Regions from separate parts of the Homo sapiens genome. Here region 2 is linked to region 1. Evidence: fine-mapped expression QTL. A gene starts in region 1. The other region holds a variant in brackets. All regions are shown on one strand. Distances are between the middles of the regions.

Region 1 (8,327 bases):
GAAAGGGAGTGGGCAACTGAACAGGGATAATACCAAGACCCTAATGATGGTGGACCCAAAATTCAAATTTTTTTTTTTGAGATGGAGTCTTGCTCTGTCGCCCAAGCTGGAATGCAGTGGCACGATCTCGGCTCACTTTAAGCTCCGCCTCCCGGGTTCACGCCATTCTCCTGCCTCAGACTCCCAAGTAGCTGGGACTACAGGCGCCCGCCACCACGCCTGGCTAATTTTTTTGTATTTTTAGTAGAGACAGGGTTTCACCGTGTTAGCCAGGATGGTCTCGATCTCGTGACCTCGTGATCTGCCCACCTCAGCCTCCCAAAGTGCTGGGATTACAGGCGTGAGCCACCGTGCCCGGCCCCAAAATTCAAAAATTTTAATACCTCAAGGTCATCAATGCAAATTAATCAAAGGGGGTTACAGACACCTAGGAAGGGGCTCTCTAACGCTTTGGTCACATGAACCCTTAAGGGAACAGGCTTAGCTACTACTGTAAAAGCACACACTACAGCGAGACCACTTTACTCTATCAATAACCCAGAAAGGAAAATAAGGCCACTTCCATTACTGATGCCAGTACAGAGGAGAGGAAGGTACCCAGGGGAAGACAGACAGTTAGACTTTCCCTAAGTTCCACCAGTATAAAGATTTAAGCACTTACTGATCTCTACAGATACTTTCATGGGATAGATTGAAGCCTACTCCACCAAAACAGAAAAGGCACAAGTGCCTCTTAAAAGAAATCATTCCCCGATTTGGGCTACCTATGTCACTCCAAAGCGACAATGGCCCCTCCTTTGTTTCCAAAATAACCCAGCAAGTGCTACCACTCTAGGAGTAAGTGATCATTTACATGCTTCCTGGAGACCTCCATCCTCAGGAAAGCTAGAAAAAGCTACTTGTAAAGAAAACTCTGGCGAAGCTCTGGCAAGAGACTTCTGAGTCCTTATTAAAGTGATTGCCTCTAGCGTTCCTCCAAGTAAGAGCGGCTCCCAAGACCAATCTGCAACCCAGCACCTTTGAAATATTATATGGTCCTTTTGAGTCTTCACAGGGGTGCCTTGTAAAGGCATTAGAAAAATATACCAATGTAGATGCTGTCTCTGAGGCAGGTCAAATTCTTCTGGGGACTCATTTTATTAGTCAATCTGCTCCAGATATTAAGAGAAAGTTACAAAAACTGGCTGTAAGTCCCCAGGCACCAATGAATGAGCTAATTAATGTAGCCTTTGAAGTCTTCTATAATGAGACAGAGTAGAAGAGGCTAAAAAGTGAAAGAGGGAAGAGGCAAGAGACATAAACCAGGCCTCCGATTATTGGCCCTTGCTATCAGAGAGAACAAGCCAGTCCAGACCAAGCCCCAATCTGGGGACACCTGCTACACTTAAAACCAGGACACTGGCCCCAAAACTGCCAGACCAAGGGACAAAATGCCCAAAAGTCCGCTCCACCTAGACCATATCCACAATGCAGAGATGCCAGTCACCGGAAGCAGGACTGCCCCCAACTCCGTAGGGAGACAGGGGCTTCCAATTCCTTGATGGCCCTGACTAAAGACTGAGGAGACCCAAGGCTAACACTGGCTGTCATTCAGTCCCCATTACCACAGAGGAATCCAGTGACCCTGCACGTGGCAGGTGTAGCTAATTTTCTATTACATACAGGGACCAGCCTGTCAGTCCTTACATTCTGCCGTCGACCCTAGTAGGCCAAATAGGCCAAACACTGCACTGCCACGGGAATTGATGAAAAACCCGGACCAGATACTTTACCCAACCTTTTTACCTTTTTTTTTTTTTTTTTTTGAGATGGAATCTCACTCTGTTGCCCAGGCTGGAGTGCAGTGGCACCATCTCGGCTCACTGCAAGCTCCGCCTCCTGGGTTCATGCCATTCTCCTGCCTCAGCCTCCTGAGTAGCTGGGACTACAGGCGCCCACCACCACGCCCGGCTAATTTTTTGTATTTTTAGTAGAGACGGGGTTTCATCATGTTGGCCAGGATGGTCTTGATCTCCTGACCTCGTGATCCGCCTGCCTCGGCCTCCCAAAGTGCTGGGATTACAGGCGTGAGCCACCGTGCCCAGCCACCCAACCTTTAATTTGCAGACTCAAGGACGTGAATGCCTAACTCCCTTGTTGCTACCCTCGTTGGGGGCTTCTTTAAAACCAATGAAACCAACTGAACCCCTTCTCATAGGAGCACTCTCAAAAGCCCAGCTGACCACCATAACACACCATAGTCCAGAGAATCCAGGACATTGCCAGCTGGGTGCATCTCTCTAGGATAAAAACTGTTTCCCTTACGTTTCCACAGGACTCTACATCAACAACTAAAAATTAAAAATCCTTTTGTAAGCCTATAGAAGACCTAACATTCATTTTCAAGAAAAGATGCCAACACCCCAAATAAAGAGATTAATATTACTTTAACATAAGGTAGTCCCATCTCAGGTCTCCTATTTGTAGGAGCTCTTTTTGTTCTTCTGCTTGCTGAATAATGATGTGATGCTTCATTCTGCTACCTTTCATGGGACCTACAATAGCCATCTTATTACTACTGACCTTTGGTCCTTGCTTGTTTAAGCTCCTTTAAAGTCTGTGTCTTCTAGGTTACAACAATTCCTAGATTGATAGTTATGCAAGGATTTCAACTTATCCCAGTGGAGGATATGACCCCTATCACTTTAAATCAGGCAAGAAGAGACTTTCGGGCCCTGGTCCTGTCTCAGCACGAAGCAGCTCCAGAAAAAATGACCCAGCCCTCCACATTTCATAAGAACATGGACCCAAAGTCTCTGAGGGGGAAAATGAGGTCGGTTAGATACAGTGGTCATAGCCTCCTTTAAAGGGGAATGAACTTGCCAGATTGATGTAGAGAACAAACCGCCCACTGGTGCATAAACTGCATCAGGCTCCTAGTTAGAACATCCTGCAGCGAAGAGGATGAACAGCAGAAGGGAAAATCCCCAAATTCACACAAGTGCAGAAACCCATGATTAGAGTGTCCTTGGAATGACCTATGCTCATTTTAATGCTAAAAAACACACCCCTGGGTGAGGAATTAAAATGCTAATGAGACATGTGATGTGGTGTACTAGCACGCACATGCACATCTGGGAGACCCCGTAACATGCTTAACAGTAATGCCCATTCCCGCTCCTTTATGAATAATTATGTAAATCTCCCATAAAGGGAAGCTCATCACTGCCAAACAGACACAGCTATCTCACACGTGTGTGTGTGTGTGTGTGTGTGTTAGAGATGGGGGCTTGCTCTTTCGCCAGGCTGGAGTACAGTGCCACGATCTCGGCTCACTGCAACCTCTGCCTACGCCTCCCAGGCTCAAGTGATCCTCTCACCTCAGCCTCTGAAGTAGTTGGGGCTACAGGCACTGCACCACTATGCCCGGCTTTTTTTTTTTTTTTTTTTTTTTTTTTTTTTTTTTTTTTTTTTTTTTTTTGAGACGGCGTCTTGCTCTGCTGCCCAGGCTGGAGTGCGGTGGCGCGATCTCGGCTCATTGCAACCTCCACCTCCCTGGTTCAAGCAATTCCCCTGCCTCAGCCTCCCGCGCAACTGGGATTACAGGCGCACGCCAGCCACCAAGCCCGGTTAATGTTTTTTAATTTTTAGTAGAGACAGGGCTTCACCATGTTGGCCAGACTGGTCTGGAACTCCTGACCTCAGGCAATTCGCCCGCCTCGGCCTCCCAAAGTGCTGGGATTACAGGCGTGAGCCACCGCGCCCTGCCCACGCCAGGCTAATTTTTGTATTTTTAGTAGAGACGGGGTTTCGCCATGTCGCCCAGGCAGGTCTCTCACTCCTGGGCTCAAGCAATCGTCCCGTCTCAGCCTCCCAAAGTGCTGGGATTATAGGCATGAGACACCGCGCCAGGCCACTGTCTCACTGTCTTGGTAAATGCAAGCTACTACAAGTGCGCGTGACCCAGGACTGCCTGGGGGCAGGAGCTTCCGCCAGCCAATTCCCGCGCACGTGGATGCGCACGTGGAGGGCGAGCAGGAAGAGGGCGCGCACGTGGAGGGCTAACAGGAAGAGGGTGCGCACTTGGCCGGCGAGCTCCCCAGCTGGCGGCGGCGGCGGCTGTGAGCTGGCCGCTTGGTTTGGAGTCGGAACTCAATCCCCAGAACTGGATCTTTAGGTTCCACGTTGGCGGCCCTGGATCTAGGGACGCAACTCTTGGGGTCCTCCCACTGCGCCGCCTGGGGAGCCTGCTCCTGCTTCCTTTCCCGGCTAGCTGGCCCCGTCCTCTGAGGCCGTGCGAATTCCCGCCACCCTCCCTCACCCCGGAGCCCTGCCCTTCCCGCCCTATGTGGCCAAGGCTTCCAGGTGCGGGCCTCGCTCCACAACTCAGGAGGCAGGATCAGCGGCTCCATTTTACAGGTAAGGAAACTGAGGCCGAGGAACCGCAGGGGCGCGTGGTTAGCGCTCAGAGAGCACTCGACTTCCCTGGGACTCCTGGCTGGTCCAGGCCTTGCAGGTCAGCCCCGGTGCGGCCGCCGGGCTACTCTGGCGCTTTTCAGGTTCCTGCGACCCCGCGTGGTTCGGGTTCCGACGTGAGCCGGGCCCTCCTCTCCACAGGCCACTGCGCGGCCGGCCTTGGTGGGGTGGAACCTTAGATTGGTTTGAGAACTGGTTTATGTTTTGGTTGATGTGGCATGTTTTGTTTTGATTTTTAATGTTCCCCAGGGTGCAAAGGGTAGCTGGTGTTTTCTTTCCAGAAAGGCTTTCTATTCCCAGCCCCTGCCCGGTTTGATGGATGTGGAGTTTATGATGCTGGAGACCGTTTTCTTTGTGGGTAGAACGCATCTCCTTTCATCTTTCAAATTGTGAGCTCAGTCCTTGCTGACAGGAGCCGCTGCTCTCGCCAGCATTCCCAAGCTATTAAATATTTGTTTAAAAGGATGGATATAAAACATGATGTTAGGAATAAGGCGTCTTGAAAAAGCAGTATTCGCAGAAACAGCACCATTGTAATATTCTGAATTCATCTTGGCTCTTTTGACATCAGGGCCCAAAGCACTTGGGATTCCGTAATTATTTGGCCTCATGCTACACTTTAAGACAGATTATTTTATTTTTCTTGTAGTCAGGAAAGTAAAAGAACAAAAAAACTGAGATGACATGTTGAAATCTCACTGCGAGGACGCGAGGGAGGATGAGGGAAGCGGGGAGGGCGGCTGAACGCTAAAGGCTGGGGCTGGGGTTTGCAGGATTCGGGGAGACAAGAGCCCAGGCAGAGGGATGTGCTGGGCAGAGGGGGCGCCATCCATGGGCTGCATTGTAGAGTGAGCATGGCCAAGTCAAGGAGCTGAACAAGACGACTTCAGTCCTGAACCTGGAAAGAATGTGAGATGGAGGAGAAACAGGTCCTGGCTGGCGGGTATTGGGCCCCAGGAGGGAAAGAGATAACAAAGTTAAGTTTGGAGACTAACGCTGTCTCCTGTTTGACTGGGGGGCCTTCATATCCCCTCCCACGCTGTCAGGACACGTACTGTAGGCACTGGAGCAGGTCACACCAACTAGAATGATCGGTTTCCATCCATTCCGGGATGCATTTTTGTTCACATTTTAGCAGCTCTGAAGTTGGGCTGGGTCCCACAGTTTGTGTCTTTCTTTGTGTCATCGTTCACTTGGCAGCTTTTTGTCGGTCTTAGTGGCACAGAAAGTCACAGTGCCTTAAACCCAGCAGCATCTTAGCTGTGATGAAGGAGTCAGCCATGGCCTGAGTCCAGTAACTGCAGGATCCAGAGTTGGAGACGCAGGCAGAGAAGATGACCCACCTCAGCCTGCACCCTTTTGTTGTTTATGTCTTTGTCTTTGAAAGTGCTTGTTTCAAGGCATGTGAGGGAGGGGATTGGCAAAAGCAAAAACCTGGAAACAACAGATAGACAAATGAAAAATGTGTTACTTTGTGGTTGGGAGAGGGAAGAAACAGCTGGTAGCTGCATCTCCCTTCCAGGTAAAATTGGAATGCCATATAATCACTGGTAGATAGCACCTTTGAGTGAAAGGCATTTTGCAGCAGCTAGAGTCAGCTGCCCACTGAGCAGGCAGCCCTGGCCCAAGAGCCTCATAAGCAGCCAGCCAGTCTGAATACGCTGATTGGGCCAGTGAGCCCCAGGCTTCATCATCTGCTTGAGTCTTGGTGAGCCCTGGGTCTGTCCTATGACAGAAACTTCCTGCTGCTGTAAGCTCCTCTAGGGCAGAGACTGCATCTTCCTCATCCTTGAGGTCCCAATGCTCAGCATACTGCCTGACACATAGAAGATGCTAAATTGGGGTTTGTTGAGCGGGAACTGTATTGAACAGGTTGGGCAAATTGTCTTCCTGGTGGCGGAGTGAAAGTTTTTATGTACCACTTTGGCAGGGCACAGTGGCTCACACCCGTAATCCCAGCACTTTGGGAGGCTGAAGCGGCAGATCACAAGGTCAGGAGATCGAGACCAGCCTGGCCAACATGGTGAAACCCCATCACTACTAAAAATTAGCTGGGTGTGGTGGCACCTACCTGTAATCTCAGCTTCTCAGGAGGCTGAGGCAGGAGAATCGCTTGAACCCGGGAGGCGGAGGTTGCAGTGAACCGAGATTGTGCCATTACACTCCAGCCTGGGCAATAAGCGAAACTGTCTTGGAAAAAAAAATTCATAGCAGATTTATTCATAATACCTTGAAACAAGAAATAACTCAAATGCTCATCAACAGCGGAATGGATAAATAAGTAGTAGTTATTCATATGATGAAATATTGTATAGTAATAAAGATTACTGAACTGCTGCATGAACTACTGCTACAGGCATATAGCATGCAACAACATACATTTAGCAGTAGTTCGTGGATGATTTTCACATGCATAATGTTGAATAAAATATATGCAGAAGTGCACAAAATTGATGATTTGGCTGGATGCAGTGGCTCACGCCTGTAATCCCAGCGCTTTGTTAGCTGAGGTGACCAGATCACCTGAGCCTAGGAGTTTGAGACCAGCCTGGGCAACACAATGAAACTGTTTCTACAGAAAAATATAAAAATTAGCTGGGCATGGTGGCACATACCTGTAGTCCTAGCTACTCAGAAGGCTGAAGCAGGAGGATTGTTTGATCCCAGGAGGTTGAGGCTGCAGTGAGCTGTTATCACACCATCCGAGTCTGGGCAGCAGAGCGAGACTATGTCTCAAAAATATATATATATGATTTTATGTATGTGAAGTTCAAGAACAGGCAAAATAATCGGTGGTGATAGAGGCAGAGTAGTATAACCTTTGGGGTTATTGACTGGAGGAGGTACTTCTAGAATGTAAGAAATATTCAATATGTTGATCTGGTAATGGTTACCATATGTATGTATATGTGTATATATATGCACACACAGACACACATTTATACTAAATGTACACATATGTACATAAAAATCAATCATGCTGAACACTTAAGATTTGTGCATTTAGAGCCAGGCATGGTGGCTCATGGAATCCCAGCACTTTGGGAGGCTGAGGCAGGAGGATTGTTTGATCCCAGGAGTTCAAGGCTGACCTGGTCAAGGTAGCAAGAACCCTGTCTCTACAAAAATATTTTAAAATTAGCCAGGCATGGTGGTGTGTGCCTGCAGTCCTAGCTACTCGGGAGGCTGAGGCAGGCGGATTGCTTCGGCTCAAGAGCTGAAGGTGGCAGGAAGCTATGATGATGACAGTACACTCCAGTCTATGTGACAGAGAGAGACTATATCTCTAAAATAAAATAAATTAGACTGGGTGCAGTGGCTCACGCCTGTAATCCCAGCACTTTGGGAAGCCAAGGCAGGAGGATTGCTTGAGCCCAGGAGTTCAAGACCATCCTGGGCAACATAGCAAGAACCCTGTCTCTACAAAAAAAAAAAAAAAAAAAAAAAATTAGCTGGGCATGGTGGTGTGAACCTGCACTCCTAGCTACTCAGGAGGTTGAGGCAGGAGGGTTGCTTGGGCCCAGGAGTTCAAGGTTGCAGAGAGCTGTGATCATGACATTGCACTCCAGTCTACATGACAGAGACAGACTCTGTCTCTAACAAAAATAAATAAATAAATTAGGCCAGGTGCGGTGGCTCATGCCTGTAATCCCAGCACTGTGGGAGACTGAGGCGGGTGGATTGCTTGAGCTCAGGAGTTCGAGACCAGCCTGGGTAATATGGTGAAACTCCATCTCTACAAAAAATACAAAAATTAACCAGGCATGGTGGTGCACGCCTGTCGTCCCAGCTACTCGGGAAGCTGAGGTGGGAGGATGACTTGACGCTGGGAGGCAGAAGTTGCAGAGCCAAGATTGCACCGTTATACTCCA
Region 2 (8,327 bases), 80 kb after region 1:
AATTCGTATTTTGCTTTTGCCGTCTTTGTCAAGGAGAACAGTTTTTCATTTGGAATCAAATATTGGTCGTCGAAGGGGGTTAAAGCCTAAGAGAGTGTGGGAGGCTGCATGACCAACCTCACTGTGCAGAGGAGGCCGTCTCCCCGGTGGGACGGCGTCTCACTGCTCCTGGGAGACATGAAGTTGGGGCCGTGGCTCCATGGGGACTTTTGGAGGCGGAGGGCTTCCAGGAGATGGGGGCAATGGTGCTTGATGTGCTCCTCCAGGTTATTCTCTAGGGGATTCCGGCTTGGGAGCACATACGTAGAAAAGGAAACACTGCTTTCTAGGAGTCCTAACAAGAAATCATACCAGGCAAGCCTCACTTTTCCACAGGTCAACCAGAATCATACTCCAGAGAGGACTGTGCAGTGCCTGTATGTAGGTTTCCTGGGCATTTGGTAGAGGCTGTCACCATAGGCTGGGTTCGGCATGAAGGAATGCGGGTCAAATGATGACAGAATGAAGTGGGCTCATTATCAAAAGGTGCTGCTGGCCATCAGAGTGTGCCCAGAGGGCAGGCCCTGTCACCACCCCGAGTTCTGTCTCCACTCACAGGTTGGCCAGGGCAGGCCCAGTGTTTTGGATGAGGCTATTAATGGAACAATGGTCAGATTCACAGATGACATGAATACAACTGACAGCAGACCGAAGATCCCAGAAGATCTCAACAGACTGTAATGATGGACTGAGTTGAAAAGGGAGGCCCAGCTGCACAATTAAGAACAGGATCTGGGAAATGGGATTTGACAGCAAGACGTGTGAAAAAAAAAGACTTTGGGCTCAATCTGTTAACTGCGTTGTGTTGTGGGGCTGCCAAGAAAATGAGCATCAGCCTCAACTCCGAGTGTCGCACTTGAAAGGGAACATTGACAACCCCCAGGGCCGTCAGAGGACCCAAACCAAAATGGCAAAAAAAGATACAAAAAGATGGGAATGAGGGGGCTGTGGCACCTGCAGGAAGGGGCAGCCACGGGAATGTGGCAACTTCTTCCAAGCGTAGAGGACCTAGGTTGGCGGAGAGCTCCCTCCTGGAGGCCCCAGAGGACAGGATCCAGAAGCTTTGAGTGGAAGTCCCAGAAGGGCAGGTTTTGGCAAAATATGGGAACGATTTCCTTTGGTTAGTCCGGTAAATGAATTTGGGCTGTCTTGGCAGATACTGCACTTCCTTTGCTGAAGTGAACACTTATTGGGGGTGTGGCAAAGAGAATTAAAATGGATAACTATGCAGAAGCTAGATTAGGTGACTTCAAGGTGTTTTCTTTTTTCTTTTTTCTTTTTTTTTTTTTTTTTTGAGACAGAGTCTTGATCTGTCGCCCAGGCTGGAGGGCGGTGGCGTGATGTCGGCTCACTGCAACCTCTGCCTCCCAGGTTCAAGTGATTCTCCTGCCTCAGCCTCCCAAGTAGCAGGCATTACAGGTACCTGTCACCACACCCGGCTAATTTTTGTATTTTTAGTAGAGACGGGGTTTCACCATGTTGGCCAGACTGGTCTCGAACTGACCTCAGGTGATCCTCCCACCTCAGCCTCCCAAAGTGCTGGGGTTACAGGCGAGAGCCACTGCGCCCAGCAGACTTCAAGGTGTTTTCTAAGCCTGAGGTTCTGTGATTTTTATCATACAAAGAGGGAGATGAGAATGGAAGTTGGTATGATTGTTCATGTGTACCTTTTAATTTACTTATAATACGTGTGAATGGAAGGACCCATATCATAGGTGGACACTTCGTGCCCTTTGCAAAAGAGATCATCCATGTACCACCTGACCATGGGACAGAATGTCTGCCGCTCCCCAGAAGCCCCATCAGGCCCCTGCCAGGCGTTCCCTCCTGCAGAGGTAATCACTTTCACAGCTTCCATCACATAGATTCATTTTACCTGTTTTGTTGGTTGGTTGGTTTTTGAGAGATGGGGTCTCCCTATGTTGCCCAGGATGGCCTCGAACTCCTGACCTCAAATGAGCCTCCTGCCTCAGTTTCCCAAAGTGCTGGGATTACAGGTGTGAGCCACTGTGCCTAGCCCAATTTTGCCTGTTTTTAAACATTTATATAAATGGGACCATGCAGAGCATTCTCCCTTGGGTCTGGCTTCCTTGGCTCAACACCTGGTTTGTGGGGCCTCTCCACGTCAATGTGCGTGGTTATATATAGACGGGTTCCTCATGTTGCCCTGTGGTGGTCCACTCGTCTGGGTCTGTGGCCGACTGTGTCCCGCCGTCTATTCCCGTCCACACTCTGTGTGCTCAGACTGGTCTGTGGATGACCAGGCAGTCTGGTGGCTGTGGGCTTGCAGACCCCCGGGAGGGACAACCAGCTTCTAAGCCCACCCCCTTGTTCTTCCCACCTGGCAAGTGCGCAATGAAGAGTCCAGGGAAGGAGTGCCGAGCAGGTGGCTGACAGGCAGCCTGATGGACAAGAGGCCCGGGGTGCGAGCCAGGCGGACGCCCTGAGGCAGCATGTCAGGCAGCATTGCCACGGTGGAACAGGCCACTGCCGTTGCTTCCTGAGCTGCCCTGGAGACTGGAAAAGGCAGCTCATGCCTTTGGCCAGGTGCCTGACAGCCTTTTAGGGCAGTTCAGTCTTGGCAGGGCCCAGTTCTCCTCCCAGGGAGTGAAGACAAGGGGCTCCAGAGGGGCTGTGCTGGCCTATGTCACTGCCCGACATCCCAGCAGCCCACGTGGTTGGTGCCTTTGCCTTCCTGGGTGCCCCTTGCGGAGGCTAGGAAGCAGAGCGCTGGCATTCCACTTCTGGCCCTGCTGCGGGTTTGGAAAAGTCATTTGTGAATGTCTCAGTGCCTTCGACTCCTCTGAGTGCTAATCCAGTGTCCTGGTCTTGTGGAGGCCCTTGGTGGGTGGAGGGGGACAGGGCGGAGGCAGAAGCTGGCCTGGCCTAGCCTGGCCTGGCTGGTGCACGCCAGGGCTGGAGCCTGTTGCCTTATATGACAGTGGCTGGGATGGCCCCATGGCTTCTGCCTCCTCCTCTGAACCTGGTTGGAGTTCCGGGGAGGCCTTGCCAGGTGGGGTCAGGCCTCTTCTATGGGAGGGAGAGCCCACAGCCAGCCTCAGCCAGCCCCTCTGCTTGTGCCCTGCACAGTCTGGGTGGTGGTGGGGTGAGGCTTTTCTTTTTCTTCTCCATGGAATAAGTTCTCAGTCTGTAAAATAAAAAAATGGTCTCGCCCCGCCCCCTGCCCCCTCCTTGCTGTGTCCCAGTGGGAACTAAGAATGCAGGACGGGGTTTAAAAGGCGGGGAGGGCCATCAGGATGAAAGGCAGTGGGCAGGCGGGGACAGCAAGGGGGCTCGCCACTCACATGTGGGTTTCTTTTCATCCATGCACCCTCTTGGTGCTTCTTGTGGTGCTTTTCTTCATTTCTGGATAACAGCCCCATCCTGACCCACCCTGCCCG[C/T]CTCTTCCCTTCTGGAACCACCCCTGGCACTGCTTTGCCGGCCTGCCTGCTCCCCTCACCCCCGGGCCGGGCAGGCCCTCCTCGCCCGCTGTGAGTAAACGAGTAAACGAGCTCCCGCGCAGGCCTCAAGTTTTGGATTAATGAAGCCCAGATGCAGACTTCTGACTGGCTTTGAGTTCACTGTGGAGCAGCTCAGAGGGGCCATTGACCTCCCACTGTGTTCCCGGCCCAGCTGCTGCTGGGGCTCCCAAACAGCTGGAAAGCTGGCCCTGTCTGACAGGGAGGCGAAGGCCTGTGCGTGGGGGAGAACCTGAAGCTTGGGGCTCTGGGTGTGGGGCCACGGGGTGGCCTGCACCCACGGGGGTCTGTTGTAGGGGCCGTAGAGAGGGGATAAGGGGCTTCTGTTAGTTATCCCATGGTTCAGTCCGGGTGGGCGCTGCCTTTCCTCAGTGCTCAGTGTGGGGGAAGTGGGAAGTGTTGAGTGAGTACACAGTGGTGCTGCACAGGAGGGGGTTGAGGCTGAAGGGGCCCAGGGTCAGGGCACCCCCACGATGGTTCACATCAGGCCTTCACAGTCAGGCATGGAGGGGAATGGTTGGTCCCTCTCAGGGTTGCTAGACACGATGCACATATCACATGGGATAAACTTATGCCAGAAAAATTATTTTCGGTCGGGCTTGGTGGTACATGCCTGTGATCCCAGCTACTTGGGAGGCTGAGGCAGGAGAATCGCTTGAACCCAGGAGGCGGAGCTTGCAGTGAGCTGAGATGCCGCCACTGCACTCCAGCCTGGGAAACAGAGCAAGACTCCTGCTCAAAAAAAAAAAAAAAGAAAGAAAAAGAAAAAGTATTGGCTGGGCGCGGTGGCTCACACCAGTAATCCCAGCACTTTGGGAGGCTGAGGTGGGCAGAACACTCAGGCGGATCACCTGAGGTAGGGAGTTCAAGACCAGCCTGACCAACATGGAGAAACCCCGTCTCTACTAAAAATAAAAAAATTAGCTGGGCGTGGTAGCACATGCCTGAATCCCAGCTACTCCGGAGGCTGAGGCAGGAGAATCGCTTGAACCGAGGAGGCAGAGGTTGCGGTGAGCCGATATCGCACCATTGCATGCCAGTCTGGGCAACAAGAGAGAAACTCCATCTCAAAAAAAAAAAAAAAAAAAAAAAAAAAATATATATATATATATATATATATATATATATATATATATATACACACATATATGTATATTTTTGTGTATATATATTTTGTATTTTTAGTAGAGACGAGTTTTCTCCATGTTGGTCAGGCTGGTCTTGAACTCCCAACCTCAGGTGATCCGCCCACCTCGGCTTCCCAAAGTGCTGGGATTACAGGCATGAGCCACCGCACCCGACTTAACTGGGCATCTTATATTTTAATCTGCTAAATCTAGCAATCCTATCTCCCTTCCAGCTGAACTTTTTTTTTCTTTTTCTTTTTCTTTTTTTTTTTTTGAGATGGAGTCTCGCTCTGTCGCCCAGGCTTGAGTACAGTGGTGTGATCTCTGCTCACTGCAACCTCTGCCTCCCGGGTTCAAGCAATTCCCTGCCTCAGCCTCCCGAGTAGCTAGGATTACAGGTGTGTGCCACCACGCCCAGCTAATTTTTGTATTTTTAGTAGAGATGGGGTTTCAGCATGTTGGCCCAGCTGGTCTTGAATTCCTGACCTCAAATGATCCACCCGCTTCAGCCTCCCAAAGTGTTGGGATTACAGGCGTGAGCTACTGTGCCTGGCCTGAATTTTTTTCTTAATTGTTTTATTGAACTACAATATACAAACAATAGAGCAAAGACAGTTAAGTGTATGGCTCAGTGCATTTTCACAAGTCCAATGCACGTGAAGCCAGCACCCAGGTCAAGAAATGAAACATGATCAGAACCTGCCCCCCACCCCCACCCCAGGGTCATGAGTATCCAGACTTCCAACAGCTGAAGTTTGCCATTTGCATTTTTTTTTTAAGAGTTGGGGTTGCCTGTAATCCCAGCACTATGGGAGGCTGAGGTGGGTAGATCATGAGGTCAGGAGTTCAAGACCAGCCTGGCCAAGATGTTGAAACCTGTCTCTACTGAAAATATAAAAATTAGCTGGGCGTAATGGCAGGCGCCTGTAATCCCAGCTACTTGGGAGGCTGAGGCAGGAGAATCGCTTAAACCCGGGCATAAAAGAGTTGGGGTCTTGCTGTGTTGCCCAAGGTAGCCACAAACTCCTAGGCTCAGGCAGTCCTCCCACCTCAACATCCTGAGTAGCAGGGACTGCAGGCGTGGAGTACTGTAGCTGGCATGCCCATGTTTGTACCTCATATAAATGAGACCCTGTTGGCTGGGCACAATGGCTCATGCCTGTAATTCCAACACTTTGGGAGGCCAGGGCAGTTGGATCACCTGAGGTCAGGAGTTTGAGACCAGCCTGGCTGACATGGTGAAACCCCGTCTCTGCTAAAAATACAAAAAAAAAAAAAAAAAAAAAAAATAGCCAGGCATGGTGGCGCGTGCGTGACTGTAGTCCCAGCTACTTGGGAGACTGAGGTAGGAGAAATGCTTGAACCCGGGAGGCAGAGGTTACAGTGAGCCGAGATCATGCCATTGCACTCCAGCCTGGGTGACAGAACGAGACTCTGTCTCAAACAAAACAAAACAAAAAATGAGACCATGCAGATACATTTTTTGTGTCTGGCTGCTTTCCTACCACACTGGAGGTCGTTCATGTTGTTGGAGGTACTTGTGGTTCATTCATAATCACAACACCCCCCCGTAGGACTGAGCTGTATGGATACAGCCTGATCTGTCTGTCCACTGTGCTGTTGCTGCTGCTGCTGCTGCTGTGCAAACCTTCTAGTGCCTCTCCTTTTTTTGCAACTTTGTACCTAGGAGTAGGATTGCTGGGCATGGGGTGGGCATCTACACATCTTTAGTAGATCTTGCCAGTTTTGGGCAGTGGCGCACCCATCAATATCCTGCCAGCTGTGTGTGAGTGCCCATAACCCTGCGCCCCCACCAGCACCTGGCATGGCCCCAGCTCGTGTTGGCTCTTCTGGGGTGCGGTGCTGCTGCTGCTTGTTCTGCTTTTTGAAAAATCCAAGAGTCCGCTGCTTTGTCGAGTCCTCTGACTTTCTTGACTCTTTCCTAAGAAAATCTAAAAGTGCCCCAGGATTTTAGACCCTAGATTAATGCCTCTGTGATCCCAGCCTCACCGGAGCTTTGAGGAAGCCATTCCTGCCTCAGTTCCCGTTCACCCAGGGAGCCTCTCTGCATGCAAGGCTGGGGTGAGAGGTCCAGGGGCCAGGGGTTCCAGGCACAGCTGTCTCTGGGCATTCTCAGGGCTCTGTTTCAGCCTCTTTGCCTCCCTGTGGCTTCCTCTTCCTGATTCTCCCTCCAGGAGGCAGGATGGCCACCAGTGGCTGTAGTGGCGGCCCTGCTGGAAAGGCCTGCATGCCTGCACTTTGCTGATAGTTCAGCCACAGCCCGAGGCCACCTCTCAGTGACTGGGTCAGGTGCCTGTCCTGGGAGCCTGGCAGGAGATGGATTTCCCAAAGGAAAGCCCAGTGGATACTGGGTGAAAAGAAAACCATGAAGTTTGGCCTGCTGAGGCCAAGTCAGTCCCCCAGCCTCCCCCACCCTGCAGAGGTGGAGCCACAAAGGAAAGAAGAGGCAGAGGCGTATTGAAAAGCAGTTCAGCCGGGCGCGGTGGCTCACGCCTGTAATCCCAGCACTTTGGGAGGCTGAAGCGAGCGGATCACGAGGTCAGGAGATCGAGACTATCCTGGCTAACATGGTGAAACCCTGTCTCTACTAAAAATACAAAAAATCAGCCGTGCATGGTGGCGGGCGCCTGTAGTCCCAGCTACTCAGGAGGCTGAGGCAGGAGAATGGTGTGAACCCGGGAGGCGGAGCTTGCAGTGAGCCGAGATTGTGCCACTGCACTCCAGCCTGGGCGACAGAGCGAGACTCCGTCTCAAAAAAAATAAAATAAAATAAAATAAGCAGTTCAGTGCTGCTGCCTCTATGGATCCATGGATATGTATCGGCAGAGGGGATAAAAAACTAAGAAAAGCCCAGCTCTGTGGGCCTCTGAAATTACCAGGGACTTGAGTTTTTGTGTGGATTTATTATTTAATTTTCTGATCATGAGAGTTTCATTCCTCCTAGAATACATAATGCTGTAAGCCAATGGAGAAAGCCCTTTGCTGGGGTACCCCAGATGGAGGGTGGCTCCCCCAAAGTCCCCTCTCCATGGGTATCCTGCCCCCTGCTCGGGCTCCCCGACTTCCAGCACACCCTCTCTCAGGCTGTCGCTTTTCCCCCAGGCGGCTTCGAAGCCAGCTCAGCCTTGTGGTCATTGCTCGAATGCTGGGCCAGCAGGAGATGCTCCCTCTCTGGCAAGAGAAGACCCAGGTGAGTGTTTGCTTCAGGCCTGGGCAGGAAGGCCATGGCCTGCGGGCTCTGGAGGCTTTCCCCAAAGGCCAGGAACATCAGGCCCCAGAGCTAAGCTGGCTCTGAACTCTCTACTCATGTTCTTTCATCAAGAATTACCGCTTGCATGCCAGCCATGTGCTAGGCGCTGAGGACAGAGCAGTGAGCTGAGAGCCTGTCTTTTTAAAAAATTGTAGTTGCTGGGCACGGTGGCTCACGCCTGTAATCCCAGCACTTTGGGAGGCTGAGGCGGGCAGATCATGAGGTCAGGAGATCAAGACCATCCTGGCTAACACGGTGAAACCCGTCTCCACTAAAAATACAAAAAATTAGCCAGGTGTGGTGGCGGGTGCCTGTAGTCCCAGCTACTCGGGAGGCTGAGGCAGGAGAATGGCGTGAACCTGGGAGGTGGAGCTTGCAGTGAGCCAAGATCGCGCCACTGCACTCCAGCCT

Direction of the effects. Alleles are on the strand shown, and positions count from the first base shown. SD is a standard deviation of normalised expression in the study named.
With allele C in place of T in region 2, the expression in aorta of the gene that starts at base 4,059 in region 1 is lower (moderate effect, 0.70 SD a copy in GTEx).

What was found. PIP is the estimated chance that this variant, and not a neighbour inherited with it, causes the effect.
Region 2: its variant is the best candidate, but not a certain one, in a credible set for the expression of FAM178B in aorta (GTEx, PIP 0.51).

What each region holds. Positions count from the first base shown.
Region 1 is chr2:96,982,312-96,990,638 of GRCh38, reverse strand. FAM178B (family with sequence similarity 178 member B) reads left to right here and starts at 4,059. Exons shown (of 17, transcript NM_001122646.3): 1 at 4,059-4,398. The coding sequence starts at 4,326. RefSeq lists enhancers at 3,981-4,501, 4,502-5,022.
Region 2 is chr2:96,902,149-96,910,475 of GRCh38, reverse strand. FAM178B (family with sequence similarity 178 member B) reads left to right here. Exons shown (of 17, transcript NM_001122646.3): 13 at 7,769-7,856. Among named protein-coding and RNA genes, the nearest start is that of SEMA4C, 36 kb to the right of the region's middle. RefSeq lists enhancers at 3,209-3,804, 6,289-6,788. The variant C/T (reference allele first, on the strand shown) is at 3,441.